Linked DNA regions of Homo sapiens. The protein of the gene in region 1 purifies or fractionates together with the protein of each later gene. This does not show direct contact. Each region holds a gene or a part of one and is shown on either strand. Other genes may lie near its edges.

The links. The genes of interacting proteins can lie anywhere in the genome.
Region 2: the proteins of VANGL1 (region 1) and RPL22 purify together in Homo sapiens (affinity purification with mass spectrometry; 2 studies listed by BioGRID and IntAct, with this or other methods). This does not show direct contact.

What each region holds. Positions count from the first base shown.
Region 1 is NC_000001.11:115,679,489-115,687,310, forward strand, and holds part of VANGL1 (vang-like protein 1), read left to right. Parts: intron 1-2,875; coding exon 2,876-3,009; intron 3,010-4,455; coding exon 4,456-4,588; intron 4,589-5,804; coding exon 5,805-6,039; intron 6,040-7,822.
Region 2 is NC_000001.11:6,195,955-6,203,823, reverse strand, and holds the start of RPL22 (large ribosomal subunit protein eL22), read left to right. Parts: upstream 1-4,228; 5' UTR 4,229-4,250; coding exon 4,251-4,262; intron 4,263-6,067; coding exon 6,068-6,172; intron 6,173-7,869.

The DNA.
Region 1 (7,822 bases):
ATCTGCTGAGGCCCCGTGCTGGAAGGCGGTGGGCCGGGAGCCCTGCTGGAGACAGAAGCCACTGCTCTGGGCAGTGCATCACACTCACAGGGTGGAGGGTGAGAGACACAGCCAGGAGGCTCCGACCCACCCATCCCCTCACAGGCCCCAGCTGAATTAATGGGATTCCCTTGACCCCTCCTTGCAGCCTCGCTGAACAGAAAAGCAAAACCCAGCAACCACAAGATAGTTTTGAGTTGAAAATGGTTCTGAGAACTTCTGATGATTGCTTTTTAATTTTTAAATTTAGATCAGGGTAATGCTTTTCTGTTGGAATCCAGGGGCCTAGAGATGTTTCTTTATCAGTGGAGGAGGGGGGATGAAGTGAGTTTGAACCCCAGTGGGTCTGTGTGTATAAACTGAGTCTTACAGCCATGTGGAGGGAGCCTCAGAAAGCCCAGGCACTCCAGAAAAGGCATGCACAGGGGTGGGAGCTGAGCTAGGCACACACCAGGGAGTGTGTGTGTGTGTGTGTGTGTGTGTGTGTGTGTGTGTATGTGAGAGAGAGAGAGAGAGAGATCAGGGAGAGGGTTGCAATGAATCTCTGGATGGGGTAGGAATAAAGAAACACTTGCCCCTCTCTGGAGAATGCCATGGACAGGGGGCAAGGACGGAGTTGGAGCCACATTGACTTGGAGATTGCCAGGTGAGACCTTCAGGGCAAGCAGACTAGACTTCTGCAGGAAGAGCTCTCGTGACACACAAACCTCCACGGAAGTCCGCCTCCTCAGGAAGGCTGCACCCTGTCCCAGGCAGCCAGAAGCTCTTCTCCGTGGTTACTCAGCCCCACGTGTTCCAGCATGAGAACATACTCACTGTCATGGGGTTCATGCTCCAGGTACCAGCTAAGGTCTATCTTCATATTCCCAGGGCTTAGCAGACACAGGCACTCAAATATGGAATGACGAGTGAACAACTGAGTAACTGAATGGTCAGAATTTTCAAAATGCAGATTTGCTGTTAGGAGTCTTAGGTTTACTTCCATTATGCAAAGTTGGTCTCACCGGATTTCCCCTGATAGTGTTCCCCAGCCTCACATGACTGTACATTATCTAGGACGATATTAAGTACCAACTGAATGCGGGCACTGTTGGGGATATAACTCAGAAAGTTTTACCATGATTCTGCTCTTAAGCAGGTTAGCTGACTGACTTCCATATTCAATTCTGTTCAAGTCTTGAAGCAGAGCTCCAAGGGGAGCCAAATGGGTGGGTAGACAGAATTTCCAGTGGATAGTTTAGGAGCTCCCTTGTCTTGGTGTGAAGTGAGGATCCCTGAGCCACCTGGAGAGTGTTGGAACACAGTGTGGTCATCCAGGAATCAAAGGGAGCCCCATCCTGGTGCTCTGGCTACTGCAAATAATCCTTGTAAGCCGATCTGCTTAGCAGAGTACTAGAAAGGAAAATCCAAAGGGCAAGATAAAAATATATCTGTGGTATTTAACATGGTGGTGGTTGGAGATGTCAGCACGTACGCTGTTACACAGAGTCCGCATGTTACCGGGAAGCCCAACTTGGAGGTTTGTAAATCATATCAGAGTTCCAGCTCTCCTGTTTATTAAATGCATACTGTTGTGCAGGTCATAGATTTTTGAGCCTCAGTTTTCTTACCTCGAATGATTGTGAGGGTTAAATGAGAATCAGGTATGTGCAAACCCTTGCTGTATCATTGCAAGGTGTTCTTCAAAGTGGCAAGTGTTCTGCACCATAGACCAAGGGCATATTCTTTTGCTGTCTATACTCATTTCCAATTATAAGTACCCTCCCACATCCTCTCTCCCACTTGTTGATGGTACCTGTTCTTTGTTCCCCTGCTGCTCTCTGAGGACCAAGCAGGGGATAGTTGGAGACCTAGAATATCGGAACATAGATAGTCACCTTCATACCCCTCTGCCAAAGGCCAGAGATAGCACTCCAAGGGGCAGGGGGACCCAGAAAGATCAAGTGGTCTCAGCGGAGGCTCTCTTTTTTTTGTTGTTTTTTTTGTTTTTTTTTTTGAGACTGAATTTCACTCTTGTTGCCCAGGCTGGAGTGCAGTGGTGCAGTCTCGGCTCACTGCAACCTCCGCCTCCTGGGTTCAAGTGATTCTCCCGTTTCAGCCTCCCGAGTAGCTGGGATTACAGGTGCATGCCACTACACCCCGGTAATTTTTGTATTTTTAGTAGAGACGGGGTTTCATCATATTGGTTAGGCTGGTCTCAAACTCCTGACCTCAGGTGATCTGCCCACCTCAGCCTCCCAAAGTGCTGGGATTACAGGCGTGAGCCACCGCGCGTGGCCAAGGCCCTCTTAAGTACGCTCTGCCCTGGATGGCTGCAGTTGTTCTGGTCTGTATAAAACCTAAGTTCCAGGATTCCTTATACCCAGGGATACCAAGGCCTAGGGGACAAAACCCTGAATGAGGACCTGAGAAACCTGAATCTATACTTTGTTCTTTCACTCATTAGCTCTGCAACCATTAGTAAGTCTCTTGCCCTTTTGGGGGCATCCTCAGTTTCTTCTTTTGTAAACCGAGGAAAAATAGAAAAAGTTCTTGTGTGCCTAAAGCTAAATGTAAGTTATGAGTTACAACTTCTTCCTCTTTCAACAAAGGGCTAGATGGGATGTGGCTAATCACAGGTCCAGGAGAGGGCACAGAAGTCACCTGGCCATGGGGCTTAGTTTCAGCTTTAAGTTCTCATCCTGGAGACCAGAAGTGTGGTGGAACCCAGTGGACTTCTGTATGAGATTATCTTTGATGTTGTGTTCCTTTACCTGACTCCAAAAGAGGATTTTTCGTTTAGGACCTGCTTCTTCAGTGAAAAAGCTTTGCATTAATTTTGTTCTTTTTTTCTCAGTATCCAGCGAGCAGCATTGGTGGTCCTAGAAAATTACTACAAAGATTTCACCATCTATAACCCAAACCTCCTAACAGCCTCCAAATTCCGAGCAGCCAAGCATATGGCCGGGCTGAAAGTCTACAATGTAGATGGTATGTGCCTTGAAAGGGTGTCCGTGGTGCTCACAGGGGCACAGTTGGGTGACTATTTAAGATTCATGGTACGTTTGGTTCGACTTCTTCTCTGGGCCTACCTTTATGGTACATTCTTGTTTCAGAACAATTTCTCTTTTTTATGTAGGCAGACACATGTTTAGAGGAATGTTGATTTACCATCTACCTGTGTTGGAAGCCTGTTCATTTTGGGATTTTATGATTGAAAACAGCAGCGGTGTGTGTTTCCTGCCTTCTGCCAGGATCATCTTATATTGGAAGCTGTTAGGAAAGGGTTGCTTTTCAAAATTGGTGCACATTACCCACAAACTCAGAAAGCTACCTAAATCATTAAGACTAGAAATCTCAGTAGTCCAGGCATCTGGTGAGATACCTGCGGGCACTTCTTACTCGTGGCTAGGAGCCGGAGTTGAGTGGGTGGCAGGAGGCTGGAGGCCAGGCTGGGTAAGTCCAAGCTATGTTTCAGGGTATCACATGGTTAAGTGCAAGAAACAGGATGCGGTGTCATTTCTTCCTGGGTATGTTGGGTGAGGGCAAGAACTTTGCAAACCCTAGGAGAGGATTATATTTTCAACAAGTCAAGTGATTTATATACAGTGTCAGTTTTTGTTGGCAATATCCTTTCAGTTATTTGTTTGTTCATTTTTTTTTGGCTATATGAGGTGTGAGCTCCCTCACGAAGCCTGAAGGATTGATAAATTTCACCTGTGATCTAAAAACTTAGGAAAGATTCCCACTAGTGAAACCAAGTCACCAGCCAAGTAGATCATCCGTAAGAAAGCCTGAAATCTGCCTATGTTTCTGAAAAGTTAAGGTGGTCAGTGGTCAGGGGACAGGACAGGACTTCTGAGTCTGTATTCATTAACGGGTCACGTTGCACACCCTCAAGCATTGGTATTTCCTAGAAAAGTTGTGGCTGCCATGACATTCTAGCATAGCTTGCTTTCCATTGTAGACTCAGTGTCTCATGTCCTTTGACTTTCTTTTTTGTCTGTCTGTCTGTCTGTCCTTGGTCTCCCCATCCCTCTCATTCTGTCTCATTGTCTTGCTGAAATTTGATGTCCCAGCCGCCCTTATGGCCAAACTGAAACTTTATGTAACAGATGGTAACATCTTCAGCACACTCTATGTGTTGTTTTTGGCCAACATTTTAATTGCCACCGTTCTTCATGCCCTTCTGAGTTCTTTTTCCATTTCCACTGACCAGATTGGGGTTTAGGGAGATTCCTCTGCTCCCTTGCTTTGGACATAGTGAATGTGGAGCCGGGGCACAGTTCACCCTCCTGGGAAGTGACCTTTAGGATTTGTGTGTGTGTGTTCCATAGGGGGTGGGTAGACAACACTGACAGATTGGGTACTAGTTTTCTGCTCTGTTTCCCACCCTCGTGGTATTAACACTATTCTTTCACTGTCCTTTCCCCAAAGGCCCCAGTAACAATGCCACTGGCCAGTCCCGGGCCATGATTGCTGCAGCTGCTCGGCGCAGGGACTCAAGCCACAACGAGTTGTATTATGAAGAGGCCGAACATGAACGGCGAGTAAAGAAGCGGAAAGCAAGGTATACTGCCCTCCTGATGCCAGTACCCTCTTACAGACTTTTAAATTTTTATTTTATTTATTTATTTATTTATTTATTTAGAGACAGAATCTCACTCTGTTGCCCAGGCTGGAGTGCAGTGGCAAGATCTTGGCTCACTGTCACCTCTGCCTCCCAGGTTCCAGTGATTCTCATGCCTCAGCCTCCCAAATAGCTGCGATCACAGGCGCCCACCACCACGCCCGGCTAATATTTGGTATTTTTAGTAGAGATGGGGTTTCGCTATGTTGGCCAGACTGGTCTCAAACTCCTGACCTCGAGTGATGTGCCTGTCTCAGCCTCCCAAAGTACTGTGATTACAGGCATGAGCCACCATGCCCGGCCTCTTGTAGACTTTCAATCTTTCCTTTCTTACCACTAGAATGAGGTTTCTGTTTAAAAACATGACCTGCTGGGACACCTTTGGAGTGCACCTTGCTCCAGTGTTTCTCAAACTGAAGCCTGTATGAATATCACTGGGAGGGCTGTTCAAATACAGGCAGCAGGTTCTGGGCCCTGCTTGCAGAGACCCTACCCAATAGGTGTGGAGTTGGGCCCAAGAAATGGCATTTCTAACAGATTCCTGCGTGATGCTGATGCTCCTGGCCCCCAGCCCATACTTGAGTGGGTCTGTTCTGCACCCCTGGACCCTTGCTGGTGTTCACCGTCAGGTCATATTCACTGAAGGGGACAGAGGTGCATTCCATCATGTGTGCTGTGCCTCTTCCTGTTTCCCAGGGGCTGCTGGTGTGGGTGGCTGGACCAGGGAGCACGCAGCTCTGCTTCTTTGTAGGGCTGCTTCTGCACCACCAGCCACCTCTCTCTGTACAGAGCCTTTTATAGCCAGTCGGAGGGGCCTCAGAACTCTTTTCATCTAACCATTGCAGAGATGAAAAAAGGACTAGTGCATTTCCCAAGCTCATTGGTGGCAGAATTCAGAACAGAGTTCATCTCCCAGTCCTGGGGCTCCTTTCCCCCAACCCCTGGGGCCCCTGTTCCACATGTTATTTTTGCTGTTGCCTTTCTTTCTCCCTTCCTCCCTCTCCACTCTCTGAGGGACAGCTAAGGATGCAAGCAGCGTGATTGGGCCTTGGGTATGTTGGCAGGTTGGGCCGCAGCAGGGTAGACAAGCGTCATTCTGTTCTCACACCCTGTGGCAGGCACCATCCTGATTACTTAGTGTTGCATCACCTTCTAGGCTGGTGGTTGCAGTGGAAGAGGCCTTCATCCACATTCAGCGTCTCCAGGCTGAGGAGCAGCAGAAAGCCCCAGGGGAGGTGATGGACCCTAGGGAGGCCGCCCAGGCCATTTTCCCCTCCATGGCCAGGGCTCTCCAGAAGTACCTGCGCATCACCCGGCAGCAGAACTACCACAGCATGGAGAGCATCCTGCAGCACCTGGCCTTCTGCATCACCAACGGCATGACCCCCAAGGTGCGCTGCTCCGGGCGGGCTCTGCCACCGTCATCCTGGCTTGTCACTGAGCTTGGCCAGTTGAATTATAGCGTGTTACTAGAAGTGATAAAATCGAAAGGCATCTCTAAAACTCAAGTAATAAGAATTAGTGATTCTCACTTATTTTATGTTATGTTAGTACAATTGTTTTTTTAAATGTGCCTTTCGAAGGCCTCTGGATTCTAACAGAGGAGAGAATTTCGCTTGGAGGACAGTATGGAATAGTGATTGGAGACAGTATGGAATAGTGATTAGGGGTGCATTGTGGACTCTGGAGCTGAACTGATTCATTCTAACCTGGCTCCTCCACCAACTAGATGCATAACCTTGGGCAGATGGCAATAGCTCTGTGCCTCAGTTTCCTAACCTGTTAATTGGTTAGGATAATACTAATAACTATCTCATTTGTATGTTTTGGGAACTGAAAGAGCAGGATACACATATAGTGCAACATATAAACAGAGGTCCTTATAAAAAACAGCTACCAAATGTTACACGTGTACCACATGCCAAGCTCATCTACTCTCTACCATGCGATTTACATGCCTTGTTGCCATATTCAATGTAATTCTTACACAACAACCCTGTCAGAGAGATATTATTATTATCCTCATTGATACAACAGCAAACAAGTGTAGAGGAACTGAAACAGTTAATTCATGTGAAGTGCTTGAAACAGTACCTGTCATATGATGAGGATGGACTAAATAGCTCTATTTATTGGTAAAAAATAGAATGGCGTGAACCCAGGAGGCAGAGCTTGCAGTGAGCCAAGATCGCACCACTGCACTCCAGCCTGGGCGACAGAGCGAGACTCCGTCCAAAAAAAAAAAAAAAAAAAATGCCATCAGGCATTTTGGGTGTTACAGAATTAGTTTTACTGAGTGGTCTTTTAGATTATGATATTTAGGACACTTTAAGAAGTGTTACAAGAAACAGCCATGTATCTAATAGAGAGTTGTGGCCAAGGAGGCAAACTAGAGTAAAGATACAGCAAATGACTTCTCTACAGAGAAGTGGGTTCAAATCCTGGCTCCACCACTTAATTGTTTTGTGACTGTGCACAAATTACTCTACCCTCTATTAGATATATGGCTGTTTCTTGTAATATCCCTAAAAGTGTGCTAAATACTGTAATCTAAAAGACCGTTTGGTAAAACTGACTCTGTAACACCCAAAATGCCTGACAAAGCCATAGCATTATTTTTACCAATAATAATAATAGCAATTTAGTCTGGCCTCTTCATATGACAGGTACTGTTTTAAGCACATCACGTGAATTAACTCTTTCAGTTCCTCTACACTTGTTTACTGTTGTATCAATGAGGATAATAATAATATCTCTCTGACAGGGTTGTTGTGTAAGAATTACATTGAATATGGCAACAAGGCATGTAAATCGCATGGTAGAGAGTAGATGAGCTTGGCATGTGGTACATGTGTAACATTTGGTAGCTGTTTTTTTATAAGGACTTCTGTTTATATGTTGCACTATATGTGTATCCTGCTGGTTACATTGTCAACCAATAACTACCCTTAGGAAAGCAATGTAGAAATAGTAAGAAACCAAAAAGTTTTCTGTATTGATTCACTAATCTCTCTCCTAGGAAAACTATTTCCTACAATCATATATACACATGAATATACACAAAGGTGGTGTTTTGCAAAACAATCTGTAATCCTCCACAATGGAAATAATTTAAAACATAACAGTGGCTTATAAATTATGGTGTATCACCTGTTGAATCATGAAAGAATCTGT
Region 2 (7,869 bases), about 110 Mb from region 1:
GAGTGCAATGGCGCCATCTCAGCTCACCACAACCTCCGCCTCCCGGGTTCAAGCGATTCTCCTGCCTCAGCCTCCCGAGTAGCTGGGATTATAGGCATGTGCCACCGCGCCTGGCTGATTTTGTATTTTTAGTAGAGACGGGGTTTCTCCATGTTGGTCAGGCTGGTCTCGAACTCCCGACCTCAGGTGACCTGCCCGCCTCTGCCTCCCAAAGTGCTGGGATTACAGGCGTGAGCCACCACACCGGGCCTTTTTTTTTTTTTTTTGTACAAGGGGAGGGAGGGTGGGGAGATATGGGCCAATATTTTATTCTAAGCTGTTTAACTTATATTAACTCATTTAATCTGGAGAACACTCTTAAAAAGTAGAAAATATTACCCCAGAAAGTGGTGGAGCTGGTATACAAAACCGCGTAGGTGCTTTGTTAAGGAATGATGCATTAGTTTCCCGGTAGGAGGTGAGTGCTTCATTCATCCATTCATTCATGTCTGCATCTGTTCAACTAGTATTTACAGAGCATCTACCATGGGCACATAGAAGGGAACACACCAGCCAAGGTTAGTCAAGTACACAGATTAACAAATAATGACAGGCTGCATTAACTGCTTGGAAGAAAATCATAAGGATGATAGGCCGGGTGCCGTGGCTCACACCTGTAATCTCAGCACTTTGGGAGGCTGAGGTGGGCGGATCACCTGAAGTCAGGAGTTCGAGACCAACCTGGCCAACATAGTGAAAACCCGTCTCTACTAAAAATACAAAAATTAGCTGGGCACGATGGATCATGCCTGTTATCCCAGCACTTTGGGAGGCCGAGGCGGGTGGATCACGAGGTCAGGAGTTCGAGACCAGCCTGGCCAGCATGGTGAAACCCTGTCTCTACTAAAAGTACAAAAAATTAGCCAGGCATGGTGGCACGCACCTGGAGTCCCAGCTACTTCGGAGGCTGAGGCAGGAAAATTGCTTGAACCTGGCAGGTGGAGGTTGCAGTGAGCCGAGATTGCGCCATTGCACTCCAGCCTGAGTGACAGAGTGAGACCTCTGTCTCAAAAAAAAAAAAAAAAAAAAAAAAAAAGGAAAAAAAGGAAAAATTAGCTGGGTGTAGTGGTGCATGCCTGTAATCCCAGCTACTCTTGCGAGGCTGAGGCAGGAGAATCGAGATGGCGCCACTGCACTCCGGCTTGGGTGACAGAGTGAGATTCCGCCTAAAAAATTAAATAAATAAATAAGGATGATGAGATGGAGGGCAGTTGGGAGGGGCTCGAGCTGAGGACCACACTAGGTAACCATGAGCAGAGAGGGGGAACTGAGCTTGAGACCCCCAGAGGATAAGAAATTAAGAAAAGCCAGGAAGGCTGGGCGCAGTGGCCCACACCCGTAATCCCAGCACTTTGGGAGGCCAGCGTGGGTGAATCTCTTGAGCCCAGGAGTTCAAGACCAGCTTGGGCAACATAGCAAGACTCCCCCCTCTATAAAAAATACTAAAACTTAGCTGGGCATGGTGGCTCGTGCTTGTAGTCCCAGCTACTTGAGAGGCTGAGGTGGAAGGATTGCTTGAGCCAGGAGGTTGAGGCTGCAGTGAGCTGTGACTGCACCTCTGCAGTCCCACCTGGGTGATAGAGTAAGACCCTGTCTCGAAAGAAAAACAAAAATAGAAAAGCTGGGAAAAGTTCCAAGCAGAGGCAAGAGCAAGTGCAAAGCCCCAGAAATGGGAAGACATTTAGAGACTAGCAGATCAATGTGGCTGGAGATGAAGGAGCTCAGGGTGGGGAGTAGGGCTGAACATGGCATGGGAGTGAGGATGGAGGATGGGGGTGAGGCTGGAGAGGTGGGGGCGGGGCAGGGGGTGTGGGGTGAGGGATGAGGGTTTGAGTGTGGGGAGGTGGGGGTGAGGGTGAAGAGGTGAGAATGGGCTCATGAGGGTCAGGGTGATCTACGGGACACTAGTCTAGAGATGCCAAGGATGCCACTGGCTGTACCTGTGGGGAGTCCAGGGAGGGGTAGAGGCTGCACACATTGGCCTGGGGAGTCATATTTAAAGGGAAGAGCATGTGGGTCTTGTCTAAAGATCAAGTGTAGATAAGGACGGGAGGAGGCTGGGTGTGATGGCTCCCGCCTGTAATCCTAGCACTTTGGGAGGCTGAGGCAGGAAGATTGCTTTAGCCCAGGAGTTCTAGATCAGCCTGGGCAACATAGCCATAGTGAGACACCAACTCTCTACAACAGCAAAACAAAACAAAACAAAAAAACATGCAGCTGGGCATGGTGGTGCACACCTGTGGTCCTAGCTACTCAGGAGGCTGAGGTGGGAGGATTGCTGGAGCCTAGGATGTCAAGGCTTCAGTGAGCCGTATTCGCACCACTGCACTCCAGCCTGGGCAACAGAGCGAGAGCCTGTCTCAGAAAAAAAAAAAAAAAAAAGAAAGAAAAAGGAAAGAACAATAAAAGTCAACTGCTGAGAGGGAGGTTTAGGAAGAAGGGGCTGGCATTATGACTGAGGTGTGAAATAGTCTTTTGGGCCAGGTGCAGTGCCTTATGCCTGTAATCCCAGCAATTTGGGAGGCCAAGGTGGGAGGATCACTTGAGCCCAGGAGTTTGAGGCTGCAGTAAGCTATGATCACACCACTGCACTCCAGCCTTGGTGACAGAGCAAGACCCTGTCTCTATTAAAAACAACAAGAAAGGGAAATAGTCCCTTGGGGGAGAGATTTAGGATTGTCAGTAGCCCTGAGGGCTCGCTTAGGGTCCGTTATCAGCCAGGGTCCAGTCAAAAGACAACACATTATAGTTTTTAACTGAGAGAATTTAATATAAAGGATTGTTAACTAGGTATAAAGATGTGTTTAGGTAACTGTCGGGGTATAATACTAACAGTAGCAACTGCAGGAAGTAGCTACCACTGGTAGGTGGTATTATTAAAATGTAGATGCTTGAGGAGGGGCACAGGGAGGTGAAACTCAGACATCTGAGGAGAGGGTGCTGCTCTGCTAGGGCTGGTGTCTCTGAGGAGAAAACGAGGCTGGTTCTGCAAATGTTGGAATAAGTGCAGACTGGATTCCACTGCTGCTTCCAGAATGTTCCAACTGCCACCTCCAGGATAAAGAAGCAAGAGTGGATGACACCAGACAGGACAGGAGCAAGCAGGAAGCAAAGCCCCCTATTGATAGAGCCAAACCGGGATCAGCTGGAAAGCAGAAGTGTTTGCAGAGGCCCAGCCTGATCATTATAGAGCCAAGAACAGCAGCTGGCTTTGGAGCTTGGTCAACCGGCTTGAGGCCTGAGTTGAAAGCTAGACCCATCAGCACAGTCTCTTCTGGTGATTGGACTTTTGCTAGGTGAGTACACTGAAGCCAGGTAAAGGGAGTGGAGAGTGTGTGTGCCACTGAGTGATTTACAATTCAGGATCCTGGAATATAATTCCGTGAGGACGCAGCGGGTGACTGGGTGCAAAGTAGCCCAGTTCAAGGGACCTGTGGGCCTGGGGATGAGGACCTTTGCTTCTCCACATGCGGTCCATGGACTCGCAGCATCAGCATCGTCTGAGAGCTTGTGAGAAATGCAGAATTTCAGGCCACTGAGACCGCTGGAATTGGAATCTGCATTTTCCAGATCTCCTGGTGGTCCTCAACTACTTACTGGTTTGGGATGGGAAACTAGAAGGCTTGGGCTGGGAAACTAGGGAGTGGTGATCAGCGAGGGGGCGGCCTGGCTACAGCAAAAAGGACAGGCACTGGGAGACAGCCCCTGGGCATGAGCTTCCAAGCTGGGGCTTTTTGAGGAAGCCATAGTGGTCTGGCATTGGGACCTCTGAACGAAATTTCCCGGTGGCTACAAGGAATTTTCCCACTTCCCCAAATTAGTAGATTCGATTTCCATCCCACTAGCTGGTAATTTACAGTATAGTGAATTTCCTTATTTCTTTTTTCTTCCCAAGACTTTCAAAAAGTAAAGCCAACCCCTTTATTTATCTTTGGGCTCGTCCAGTCTGGCTTCCCCCCTCCGATCGTTCGCAGTGGGACAGCCCGCCGGGCCTCCTTCCTTCCCCAGAAACCCTCCAGGCCTGGGAGAGGACGCGTTTTGCATTCAGGAAAAACCAATCGCTCCCCTATCGTACATAACCAAGAGAAAAGGTGGCGGACGAGGGGCGTGGCAAAGTGATTAGTGCGGCCTGGACCCTGCGTGCCTTGCGCGCTGCGGGCTCTTTGCGTCTGCGTAGTTCGCTCACCTCCCTTTCTAACTCCGCTGCCGCCATGGCTCCTGTGGTTAGTATGGCTCCGCGTGAGGCCTCGGCTCCAGGGGAGGCACGTGGGCCTCGCCGAGCCCGGCATCTACCCAGGCTCGCTGGGGACGGCGCCCTGCAGCGTCCTGCTGGGGTGGGCTGGCAGGTCGGCCGGAGCGGGCCAGAGCCCCTGCCGATCCCAGCACGTTGTAGGCGGAGGAGGCCGCGGCCCGAGGCTCGTGAGGGAGATCCGGGAGGTCTCGGAGGCCCGGGGCCCCAGCTAGGGGCTAGCGGGGAGCTGGAGCCTGGAGACTGCGGTCTGGGCCGGCCACTGGTCCTCGGACCCCGGCCGGGGGCCTGATTACCTGGGTGGAGGGCGGGGAAGAAGAACGGGACCTGCTACCCTGGGGAGCCGCGCATTCGGAAGTCCACGGCCAAGACTCGGGGACGAATCCGCGGAAGGGCGGCTTGGTCGGCGTGCTTTCGGAGAGGAGGCCTGGGTTTGAGGAGCTTTTTAGCGTCCCCAGAGGAAATTAGTTTATCAGGGCGCACTGTACAGACCCAAACGGGTGTTGCAGTGGTGTAGGGAGAAGGCTCTCATTGCATTCTCCTTTAGCTATGCTGGGACTGGGCTGTGCGGCGCCCTCCTCCTAGGTTATTTGAGAAAGTTGTTTTTCCGTGTTCTTCGTCCCAAGATCCTACTTTTCCTCTTTTGTTGGGACTCCCTGGTTAACATTTCCGGTTCTTCTGCTCTTTCTGTCTGGTTGGGCTTTTGAATGCCTTTTGGTTTAAAACCTTGATGGAGAAGTATCAAGCCCGTTGTGGGTAGGTCTCTTGATTGATTGTGTGTGTTCGGAATAGATCTTAAAGTACCCCTCTTAGATTATTACTGCGAAGAGACGTTGTAAAAAATAAATCAGTGATTTTTGTAGTGGCCAAATGTTTGAAAAGTTGATCCAGTTAACACAAGTTTTAGATGAAGTTCTTTTAAACATGAAGGGAGGTAAGATGTGTTTTTGGAAAAGTCTATTTAGTTCTGCAGAGCTTTTAAACGTGAAAGTACAGGTTGGTACGATGCACAAGTGCATTAATGGTGTCAAGTTTGTAGAGAGATAAGATTAACACAAGCTTCTTCGTAAGAGTGAAGAAACTGGAACCTTGTAGGATGTGCTTTGCCGGGTGGTTTGGAAGTACTAATGCATAGATGAAGCGAATCAAAATGTCAGAAGTTCTTGACGGTAGTGTTGTAATAAGATTCTAGGTTTTAGCCTTAACCTTGTCCAAGCTGGAGTGGACAGGCACCTAGAATACTTTGCAACTCCCTTCATGAGAAGGTGGATGAGACAGGATTAAGGGAGATGAGCTAAGACGGATCAGGACCCTACTCTGAACATGTAGGACAAGGATTGATTTCATATGAAAATTGTGGGTATGCAAGGCATTTTGTATGCCTGCACTCTAATTTTGGAAAAATAGTATTTTTTTGAAATTGGGAATGTTAGGGCAAACAAAAGGAAGTGTTCATTTTATTGTGGTTCATAAACTAAGAGACCTTCATGCCTGTAGAGATTGGGGAGACTGGAAAGTTTGAGTGAGTCAAGAGTGCTAGAATGATTTCCCCATCAAAAGGGCATGACCCCAGGCCCCAAGCTTGTACAGCAGCATCTGCCCCATTATACCTCTGGCACTCAGGCAGTGATGCCTCTTGGCCCTCTGGCAAAGGGAGCACACTTCCGTTAGTTTTGTATTTGTATGGACTTTTATACCTATGACGTTTCTGGTTCTGTTAATCTTGTTTTTCCGACTGACTGAAACTTCATCTCTGTTATCATTTGTGTATTTTCTTAGAAAAAGCTTGTGGTGAAGGGGGGCAAAAAAAAGAAGCAAGTTCTGAAGTTCACTCTTGATTGCACCCACCCTGTAGAAGATGGAATCATGGATGCTGCCAATTTTGTAAGTTACATCCTTATTGCCACTCGGGTGGTCACGAACATTTTGAGATACTGTTGAGAAAACCTACTGGGGTACATTTCTGTTTTCAGGCTTATAGGCAGCTTCACAGGTCTGGCTGTATCATCTCACCCTGGGAATGTGGGCAGATTACTTGTTTGTTTCCAAGTCTTGTTTCTTCTTGTGTGTGCAACAGTTGTGAGGAGTAAAAGGAGATGGGCTTAGAATAAGCAAGAAGGGCTCTAGCACAGAGGTGTTAGAGGACTATCTTGTTTTTCTCCTTTAGTTTCCACAAATGATTTTACTTAAAAGTTACCCAGAAACAAGCCAGGCACGGTGGCTCACGCCCGTAATCCCAACACTTTAGGAGGCTGAGGCGGGCAGATCATGAGGTCAGGAGTTCGAGACCAGTCTGGCCAACATAGTGAAACCCCGTCTCCACTAAAAATACAAAAAAATTAGCTGGGTGTGGTGGTGTGCACCTGTAATCCCAGCTACTCGGGAGGCTGCAGTAGAAGAATCGCGTGAACACGGGAGGCGGAGGTGGCAGTGAGCAGAGATCGCACCATTGCACTCCATCCTGGGAGATAGTGCGAGACTCCGTCTCAAAAACAAAACAAAAAAAGTTACTGAGAAACAGACAAATTTCACTGGGTCCATGGCATCCCCCTTGCTGTTTGGTGTGTTTAAGCATAAGTGAGGGACCCTGATCCTGACTATGGGCTGCCTCTGTCCTGGGTCTCACTGCTTTGATGTGGAGCTTTGGACAGGTGGCAGCAGTTCCCGAAGCTTTTCTATATTATGAAGCATCTGAGCTTCAGTGTTTAAAGTACCCTGCTTGCTGAATTGTAATTGGAGCTTTTTTTTTTTTCTTCAGATCTTGCTCTGTGCTGATTTTTTGCCCCTGTATTTGGCCCATTCCCCAATATTCCTCTATCCTATTGCAATCTAGAAATATTAAATAATCCTTCCGCCACATTTTGACTCAGCAGTTTGGTTTTGACATTTTATTCTTTTTCCTCTAATAGCCATGTTTGGGGGATTCAGACTTCGTATTTGTGTGTAGAAGTCTCCTAAATTTGCATTTGCTCTAAATTCTCCAGAAGGTTGAACTATTGCCAGGATCAGTATCATTACAACAAAAATAATTTTTAAACACAAAATAATTATGGTCACGAATTATCCAGAATGGAATTTAGGTAACCTCTTATAGTTTATTGCCTTTATGTAGATGCTGTTTGCATCTGTGTCCTTCAAGAAATCCCCTATTTCCTTAGTTCTTTCTCTATCCAGTGACTTCTGGCTTTTCTGTGGCCTCCTCTTTTTCAACTTTGGTGTCTTCCAGTTTGGTATTCACATGGTGGCCCTGTTCTGGCATTATTCCTGCCTCCCTCCCTCTGAGCCATTCCCTCAGCCCACTCATCTGTTTGTGTGATTGTCTTTCCTTCTGGAAGCCTCCTTAGGATAGAAAACTTAAGTCATTTATGAATCTTGAGATGCAGAATTCAAGATTTCTGACCTAATCACTCTGTGCCCCATCTATGGTTAATGTATACTTTTTGTTTATTTTATTTTATTTACTTTGTTTTTTGAGACCAAGTTTTGCTCTTGTTGCCCAGGCTGGAGTGCAATGGTGCAGTCTCGGCTCACCACAATCTCCGTTTCCCTGGTTCAAGCCATTCTGGTGTCTCAGCCTCCCG